Linked DNA regions of Homo sapiens. The protein of the gene in region 1 purifies or fractionates together with the protein of each later gene. This does not show direct contact. Each region holds a gene or a part of one and is shown on either strand. Other genes may lie near its edges.

What was found. The genes of interacting proteins can lie anywhere in the genome.
Region 2: the proteins of SNRNP70 (region 1) and DDX20 purify together in Homo sapiens (affinity purification with mass spectrometry; 5 studies listed by BioGRID and IntAct, with this or other methods). This does not show direct contact.

What each region holds. Positions count from the first base shown.
Region 1 is NC_000019.10:49,088,294-49,095,450, forward strand, and holds part of SNRNP70 (U1 small nuclear ribonucleoprotein 70 kDa), read left to right. Parts: intron 1-1,997; coding exon 1,998-2,060; intron 2,061-2,172; coding exon 2,173-2,227; intron 2,228-7,157. UniProt on the Homo sapiens protein: Component of the spliceosomal U1 snRNP, which is essential for recognition of the pre-mRNA 5' splice-site and the subsequent assembly of the spliceosome. SNRNP70 binds to the loop I region of U1-snRNA.
Region 2 is NC_000001.11:111,765,901-111,768,500, forward strand, and holds the end of DDX20 (probable ATP-dependent RNA helicase DDX20), read left to right. Parts: coding exon 1-999; 3' UTR 1,000-2,100; downstream 2,101-2,600.

The sequences.
Region 1 (7,157 bases):
CCGGGTTCATGCCATTCTCCTGCCTCAGCCTCCCGAGTAGCTGGGACTACAGGTGCCCGCCACCACGCCTGGCTAATTTTTTGTATTTTTAGAGATGGGGTTTCACCGTGTTAGCCAGGATGGTCTTGATCTCCTGACCTTGTGATCTGCCCACTTTGGCCTTCCAAAGTGCTGGGATTACAGACGTGAGCCACCGCACCCGACCTTTTTTTTTTTTTTTTGAGATGGAGTATCGCTCTGTTGCCCAGGCTGGAGTGCAGTGGCGTGATCTAGGCTCACTGCAACTTCCACCTCCCGGGTTCAAAGGATTCTCCTGCCTCAGCCTCCTGAGTAGCTGGGATTACAGGCACGCGCTACCATGCCTGGCTAATTTTTGTATTTTTTGTAAAGACGGGGTTTCACCATGTTGGTCAGGATGGTCTCAAACTCCTGACCTTGTGATCTGTCTGCCTTGGCCTCCCAAAGTGCTGGGATTACAGGCATGAGCCACTGCACCCTACCAGCCAGTTCCTATTTAATGTGTGGTTGATGAGACCTTTAAGAGCTGCCTTGGCCCTCAGAGGGTGTGCAGTTGTGGGCTTTGGAGCCCTGTTCTGTCAGCTTATGTTGCTTTAGGCCTGGTCATCCTCACTGGCACTCATAAGCAGGGCCCTGCCATCACTCCACTCCCATCACATCCTCTGGCACTTTGTTCAATGTGAGTGATACTTGGAGCTGTGAGAAGCAATGTCTTTCCTAAATATGGAAGACAGGGTGTTTCCTAAATACTATAAAGCTAGATGTCACCTGTACCAGTGCTTTTCAAACTGTCTTTGGTGAAGGACAGATACTGTTTCCAATCTGTTTGCTTTTGATAAATATGATAGAATTACTTTTTAAAGAAAGATCTACAGTCAGGAGTTCAAGACCAGCCAGGCCAACATGGTGAAACCCTGTCTCTACTAAAAATGCAAAAACTAGCCAACATGCTGTCGTGTGCCTGTAATCCCAGGTACTCACTCAGGAGGCTTAGGCAGGAGAACCGCTTGAACGATTCTAGTCAGTTGCTGGGTTCCTTTTAGAGAGACGGGCACAGGGGGGAAAGCAGGGCTTAGAATCGCTTGAACCTGGGAAGCGGAGGTTGCAGTGAGCCCAGATCGCGCCATTGCACACCAGCCTGGGCAACAGACCACAACTTCGTCTCAGAAAAAAAAAAGACCTACAGAATAAAAGACCAAATTTGTATTAAGAGTCAGTGGACATCAAATTGTGAAATTACTGTAGAAGTTCCTGAACACTTAGTCCTGGTTTCTGTACTTATCACAGTCCAGCAACAGTTTAGATAGTACTGGTCCATGGACCATGCTTAGTTTTTGAGACAGGATTTTTTTTTTTTTTTTTTTTTTTTGAGACGGAATCTTGCTCTGTTGTGCAGGCTGGAGTGCAGTGGTGCGATCTCGGCTCACTGCAACCTCCGCCTCCTGGGTTCATGCCATTCTCCTGCCTCAGCCTCCCGAGTAGCTGGGACTACAGGCGCCCACCACCACGCCCGGCTAATTTTTTGTATTTTTAGTAGAGGTGGGGTTTCACCATGTTAGTCAGGATGGTCTCGGATCTCCTGACCTCATGATCCGCCTGCCTCGGCCTCCCAAAGTGCTGGGATTACAGGCGTGTGCACTGCACCCGGCCTTTACACCTGGCTAATTTTTAAATTTTTTGTGGAGATGGTGTTTCACTGTGTTGTCCCAGGCTGGTCTGAAACCCCTAGGCTCAAGCATTCTCCCTGTGTCATCATCCCAAAGTGCTGCGATTACAAGTGGAAGCCACTGTGCGTGGCTGCAGACCTTGCTTTGATCTGTGCCACTCCCCTCCCTCCACTGTGTCAGGGGAAGTGTGCGTGGATGTTTATTTTTGTAGGGGGTGGGGGTGGGAGGGTTAACCTGTTTATTTCCTTGGTGAGTGTCCCTTGCCATTTCCCCCAGTCCTTCCCACCCTGTCACCTCTCTTCTTGTTCCCAGGACCCTCGAGATGCCCCTCCTCCAACTCGTGCTGAAACCCGAGAGGAGCGCATGGAGAGGAAAGTATGTCATTTTTGCTTCCTGACCCCCTGTTTTACCACTGTCTCCAGATGATCCTTGACACTAGGGCACTTCTATCTGCATTCACTTCTCCACCTCCCCTTTCTCCTGACAGAGACGGGAAAAGATTGAGCGGCGACAGCAAGAAGTGGAGACAGAGCTTAAAATGTGTAAGTCTCTCATCCACCATTTGGCTCTCTCCTCTCCCAAACCCTCTGTATTCTTCCCAGGTCATACCCAGGACCCTGCTGTCTCCCTAAGGCCTGTGTTGTGGGGAACAGGGTTGTTAGTTCATTTGTTTAGCCCCTGCCACTTCACAAGCACTGTTTTTGGTTTAGGCTTTTCAGCAGCAGAACATAGGGTAAAAGTTGGCAGGAAGGGAGACCCCTGGTACCTTGGGCTCCTCCTGCATGGGAGGACAGTTAAGGGGCTCCCACAACCCAGCTGGGTGTCACAGGCTGAAGTGGTGGGTTGTGGGATAGTGGTCTGTCCTGGCTCTAACCTTAGGTCCCCAACCCTTGGGCTGAGGATGTTCCATCCCCTCCACATAGAGGAGGAATTGGAGTACAAGACAGGTGTGTTGTTGCCATTAACCAAACTCATAAGAGGGTCAGATGTCAACCTCCAGTGGCTCTTTATTCTGAAAGTGAAAACTGTACAGTCACAGGCAGCATAGCAGTGTTTCACTCAGCAGGGGACCGTGGATGTGATGGTGATCCTATAAGATTATATCATATTTTGCCAGGCACTGTGGCTCACGCTGTAATCCCAGTACTTTGGGAGGCCGAGGCAGGCGGATCATGAGGTCAGGAGTTCGAGACCAGCCTGGCCAGCGTGGTGAAATCCTGTCTCTACTAAAAGTACAAAAATTAGCTGGGCGTGGTGGCGAGCGTCTGTAATCCCAGCTACTCGGGAGACTGAGGCAGGAGAATCTCCTGAACCCAGAAGGCGGAGGTTGCAGTGAGCCGGGATCGCGTCGGCTCACTGCAACCCAGCCTGGGCAACAAGCAAAAATCTGTCTTAAAAAAAAAAAAGATTATACCGTCTATTTACTGTACCCTTTCTATGCTTTGATAACGTTTAGATGCACAAATACTTACTATTGTGTTAGGATTGCTGTAGTATTTGGTGTAGTAACACGCTTGGCCTCGGAGCAGTGGGACGCACCCTCTAGCCCAGGAGTGTTAGGTATGCTGTCTAGGCTCGTGGAAGTGCCATCTCATGTTGGCATATCGACATCATCATCAAACGACGCACTTCTCAGAACATGACTCTAGTGAGAAGACAGGTTTTCCTCCTATACCTGTGAACTTTGATGAATCCCTTTCCTCCAAATCCTGGAGTGCAGGATTTCCTCACGGTGCTTACGCAGAAGCGTGACAGAGACATCTGGCGGTGCACTCTTTGGACATTGGCTGTCGGAACGCTGTCTTGATGTCCTGCCTCAGAGGCATCTCAGACTCAGTGTCCAAACCACAGGGGTTTTCCCTCGCCACCAACCTGGTTTCCTTTGGGTGTTTTCTCTGGGACATAGACATTCAGCTGTGCCGGTCATGACCTCATTTTTTGCCATGCAGTTTGTTTCTAACACCTTTTCTAACCTTTTGCTCAGCCTCTCACCAAGACCTATTTGTGTTATTTTCTAAATGTCACAAATCTGACCCTTCTTTTCATGTCCATCATCACCACCCAGGTCACCTCTTGCCTAGACAACACAGTCACAGTCTTAACTAGTTTACCTATGTCTTTTTGTTTGTTTGTTTGTTTGTTTGTTTTTTGGAGGCAGCCTCGCTCTGTCGCCAGGCTGGAGTGCAGTGGTGCAATCTTGGCTCACTGCACCCTCCGCCTCCCAGGTTCAAGTGATTCTCCTGCTTCAGCCTCCCAAGTAGCTGGGACTACAGGCGTGCGTCACCACGCCCAGCTAATTTTTGTATTTTTAGTAGAGGCGGGGTTTCAGCATGTTGACCAGGATCGTCTAGATCTCTTGACCTTGTGATCTGCCCACCTTGGCCTCCCAAAGTGCTGGGATTATAGGCATGAGCCACCGTGCCTGGTCACCCCCCTCCTTTTTTTTTTGAGACGGAGTCACGCTCTCTCAATCAGGCTGGAGTGCAGTGGTACTATCTTAGCTCACTGCAACTTCCGCCTCCTGGGTTCAAGTGATTCTCCTGCCTCAGCCTTCTGAGCAGCTGGGACTACAGGCGTGCGCCACCATGCCCAGGTAATTTTTGTAATTTTAGTAGAGATGGGGTTTCACCATGTTGGCCAGGCTGGCCTCGAACTCCTGACCTCAGGTGATCCACCTGCTTCAGCCTCCCAAAGTGCTGGGATTACAGGCATGAGCCACCGCAGCCGGCCTAGTTTGTCTATATCTTAACCAACCACATCCACTGTGGGTCTTCTTTTTTTTCTTTTTTGGAAAAACTTTAAAACTGAGACGGGGTCTCACTATGTTGCCCAGGCTGGTCTTGAATTCCTGGGCTCAAGTGATCCTCTTGCCTCAGCCTCCCTCAGTGCTGGATTACAGGTGTCAGCCATTGTGCTCAGCCTCTTTTTTTTTTGTTGTGTTTTGTTTTGTTCTTAGGGACAGGGTCGTGCTGTGTTGCCCAGGCTTTACTGCCGTGGTGCAGTCATAGCTCACTGCAACCTTGAATTCCTGGCCTCAGGTGATCTGTCTGCCTCGGCCCCCAGAGTGTTGGGATTTCAGGTGTGAGCCACCATGCCCAGCCAAAAGTGTTTTTCATTTTTTGTTTTTTGTTTTTTAGATGGAGTTTTGCTGTTATTGCCCAGGCTGGAGTGTAGTGGTACGATCTAGGGTCACTGCAACCTCTGCCTCCCCGGTTCAAGCGATTTCCCTGCCTCCTGAGTAGCTGGGATTACAGGCATGCACCACCATGCCTGGCTAATTTTGTATTTTTAGAGACAGGGTTTCTCCATGTTGGTCAGGCTGTTCTCGAACTCCCGACCTCAGGTGATCTGCCCGCCTCGGTCTCCCAAAGTGCTGGGATTACAGGGCGTAGCCACCACACCCGGCCAGAAATGCTTTTTAAAAACGGTTCCACCCGGGCGTGGTGGCTCACGCCTGTAATCCTTCAAGGCAGGTGGGTCACCTGAGGTTGGGAGTTCGAGACCAGCCTGGCCAACATGGTGAAACCCTGTTTCTGCTAAGAATACAAAAATTAGCCCGGCGTGGTGATGTGTACCTGTAATCCCAGCTACTCGGGAGGCTGAGGCAAGAGAATCCTTTGAACCTGGGAGGCGGAGGTTGCAGTGAGCCGAGATCACGCCATTGCACTCCAGCCTGGGTGACAGAACAAGATTCCATCTCAAAAAAAAAAAAAACAAAAAAAAAAACAGTTCCAGGCCAGGCACGGAGGCTCATGCCTGTTGTCCAGCACTTTGGGAGGCTGAGGCAGGCAGATCACATGAGGTCAGGAGTTCAAGACCAGCCTGGCCAACATGGTGAAACCCCATCTCTACTAAAAATACCAAAACAAAAACAAAAACAAAAACAAAACAAAACCTAGCCAGGCATTGTAGTGGGCTCCTGTAATCCCAGCTACTCGGGAGGCTGAGGCTGGAGAATTGCTTGAACCCGGGAGGCGGAGTTTGCAGTGAGCAGAGATAGCGCCATTACACTCCAGCCCGGGCAATAAGAGCAAGACTCCTTCTCAAAAAACAAACAAGTAAGTTCCAATTGGGCGAACAAAAAAGTTCCAATTGAGGAATTTGAACACTGGATCATAGATGAGGTTAAGGAATTAGTAAATGTTAACTCTAAGATGTAATAGTGGCACTGTGGTTATGATGTTTAAAAGCCTTTGTTAGAGACCAAAATGGTGTGCTATCTGGAATTTCATTTAAAATAATCCAGCCGGTCGTGGTGGTTCACGCCTGTAATCCCAGCACTCTGGGAGGCTGAGGTGGGAGGATTACTTGAGTGATCCAGGTTCGAGTGGTGAATATGGTGAAACCCTGTCTCAACTGAAAATATAAAAATTATCTGGGTGTGGTAGCAGGGGCCTCTAATTGCAACTACTTGGGAGGCTGAGGCAGGAGAATCACTTGAACTCAGGAGGCAGAGGTTGGGGTGAGCTGAGGTCATGCCACTGCACTCCAGCCGGGGTGACAGAGCAAGACTCCGTCTCAAAAAAATGCAGTGGGCTGTGGGAGGATAGGGATGAAACAAGTCCGTCCACGTGTTGATAATGGAAGCGGGCTCATGGGAGTTCGTTATACTGCTCTGCCTCCATTAAATGCTTGAACTTCTCCATAATAGAAAAGAAATAAAAGAATGGATCAAGTTCAGTAGGGTTTCTGTGCCCTTGAGAGCCTCCACTCATAGCTATAGAAGCTTGCTGTGCCTTGTCACAATGAACAGCTCCCGTCAAGGGGACGGTGCCTCCTTGCTGAGCGCTTGTACTTGGTGTTACTGACTTTCTCACAGCTTCCAAGTGCAGCAGGGGTTGCTACTCCCATTTTTAAGATAAAGAAATGGAGGCTTGTTGAGGCAAGCACGCTTCCAAAGAGTGAGAGTTCCAAGATGGGACCTCGAGTACCTCAAAGCCTAATTCCCAACTCCACGACCCACTTCCGTTGAGTCTCTGCTCTGGGCTGCTACTTAGATGAGCCCTCAACCAGTGATGTCCTGAGGGAGAGCTGCCGTCAGGGCGCTGCACGCATACGCTGGCTGTGGGGCGCTGCCCGGCATTGGGTCTGTGCTACCTTCTTTGAGCTTTTGTTCTCTATCTTCAGGACTTGGGGGTACCATTGCTTTGCTGCATTTGCTTTTTACCTTTAGTCACATTTGTGGCCCCCCCACCCCGGGTAAGCAAGTGCTCCAGGGAACTCACACAGTGTGCTGGGGTGGTTTCCCTCTGGCTGCCCTTCAGGAAGCTCAGCTGTTGTTTGGCCTTCGTCCACTCCCCAGCCCTGCAGCATTCATTGGTCCCACTGTCATGCTCCACAGTAACTGTTAGAATGCCTGCTGTCTGGCGTTGCCGGGTGTGTTTCCTTGCTGCTGTGACAGCTTTCAGCTCTTCATTAAATGTTAGCATCTTGTGAGGCTTTTTCTAACCTGCCTTGTAAAGTCACCCGTTT
Region 2 (2,600 bases), on another chromosome or scaffold:
ATGGCTTCCTCTAGAAATAATTCTGTATCTGGACTATCAGTCAAATCAAAAAATAATACCAAACAAAAGCTTCCTGTGAAAAGCCACTCAGAATGTGGAATCATAGAAAAAGCAACGTCACCAAAAGAACTGGGCTGTGACAGGCAATCCGAAGAGCAAATGAAGAATTCTGTTCAGACTCCCGTTGAAAACTCCACCAACAGTCAGCACCAGGTCAAAGAAGCTTTACCTGTGTCACTCCCCCAGATTCCTTGTCTGTCTTCCTTTAAAATCCATCAGCCATACACGTTGACTTTTGCTGAATTGGTAGAGGATTATGAACATTATATTAAAGAGGGGTTAGAGAAACCTGTGGAAATCATCAGGCACTACACAGGCCCTGGGGATCAGACTGTGAATCCTCAAAATGGTTTTGTGAGAAATAAAGTTATTGAACAGAGAGTCCCTGTGTTGGCAAGTAGTAGCCAATCTGGAGACTCTGAGAGTGACAGTGATTCTTACAGCTCAAGAACCTCTTCCCAGAGCAAAGGAAATAAGTCATACTTGGAAGGCTCTTCTGATAATCAGCTGAAAGACTCTGAATCTACGCCTGTGGATGATCGTATTTCTTTGGAACAACCACCAAATGGAAGTGACACCCCCAATCCAGAGAAATATCAAGAATCACCTGGAATCCAGATGAAGACAAGACTTAAAGAGGGGGCTAGCCAGAGAGCTAAGCAGAGCCGGAGAAACCTACCCAGGCGGTCTTCCTTCAGATTGCAGACTGAAGCCCAGGAAGATGATTGGTATGACTGTCATAGGGAAATACGTCTGAGTTTTTCTGATACCTATCAGGATTATGAGGAGTACTGGAGAGCTTACTACAGGGCATGGCAAGAATATTATGCTGCCGCTTCTCATTCATATTATTGGAATGCTCAGAGACATCCAAGTTGGATGGCAGCTTATCACATGAATACCATTTATCTACAAGAAATGATGCATAGTAACCAGTGATTATAGGATATACCTGAGACCATCAGGAACTGTCAACAAATGATACCTTTGGATATCCATCCTCCTCGACTTATAGTACAGTGGTGTATAGTGGCATTTCTGATAAACTTGAAAAGACTTGAGTCTTTCCACTGGGACACATCCATTTTTCAGATTGTTTTGATTTAGGCCAGGTATATTATCTTCATTTTTAAGAGTTTCTTTAAGAAACTTCATCAGATTGTTGAAAGATAATTTTTGGGACATAGAGCTGAAAGTTTCAGGGTGCCATTTTCTATAAGATCTTCCCAAAAGAAACATTTAAAAAGATGACATATACCACCACTTACTTAAAAACAATAAAAGCAATAGATTTGATTAGTAATATTATTGCTGTGGAGTTCTTTACAAAGGGCTTAGGCTGCATTTCCTTCTATAGAGGTGCATTCTTGTAGAAATTTGTAGCATGGTAGATCAGAAAATCCTCTTAGGTTTTAGGCAGGAAGGAATATTTAAACATTGCTTTAGATTTTCCTAAAGGTATTTGATTTGATCTGTTAGCTTCCAGTAAAAATATTTGTTTTTAGTAAAAACAAATTTAAATATATTTACATGTTTGTTGTTTATCTTTTGAATGTCTTTTGAGGCTGTGAAAGCTGTCCACATTTTTGCTGTGTATTAAATAGCTGTGGGTCATCAGTTGCTGTCTTACTTGTGTTGCTCAGATAGAGGAGCAGCTCTTAATCTTTTTTGGTTCTTGGATCCTTTTATGAATCAGCTGATAGCTATAGATTGACTTCAGGAAATTTCTCATTCCATAAGCACAGAATTGTGAGTGTAATTTCAAGGGGTTCATAGACCCTCTGAAGTTCATCTATACAGTCCAGATTAACAAGTGACCTGCTCTGCTGGTAGGCTAGGGGAAGTTCTAGCTCTTAGTTTTAAGTATTTTGTGGAAGCTGGAATTGATTCTCTTCAGACACTTCTTAGTACATCCTAATTTTGTGTCTTCTAGAAAATTTTCCCCAGTTTTTACCTCTAATGTTAGGATCCAAGAGGAGCTTGGATCTGAGCTGATGCATCTGTAAATTACGATTTAGAAAAATATAATTGGAAATTACATATTCTTTGCTTTTTTCCTCTGGAAATCCTTTTATGATTAAGCTTTTGGTTCCCAAGCCTTTCTGTGAACTGGATTTTTTATGAGAGAACCACTTGTGTAGAGAGATGTGTATTCACTTTTTAAAAGGAAAGCTCTTCTTTCCTGTGTACATACTTGTCTAGGTAGTATAAACACTTTCCCCAGGGCTGTCAGCAAACACCCACAGCCATTGTCATTTATTGTCCAACACCTACATAACACAATTCTAAAATCCTACTTAACTTGGATTCCTGTCATTTGGATTGGGCAATATTAGGCTTTTCTTACATGTGTCAGTATGTGAATTAATTAATAATGTAGATAGCAAATCCATAATTAGGTCCAGTATGTCATTAAGAAGTAGAGATTTTAATTACACATTTAAATAAGATCCTGTCATTGATATATAATTGAATTTACTTTTTCCATCCTTTCCCCCACAATACAGCCAAGTTCAGTTTGTCATTGCTGGGGGATTTTA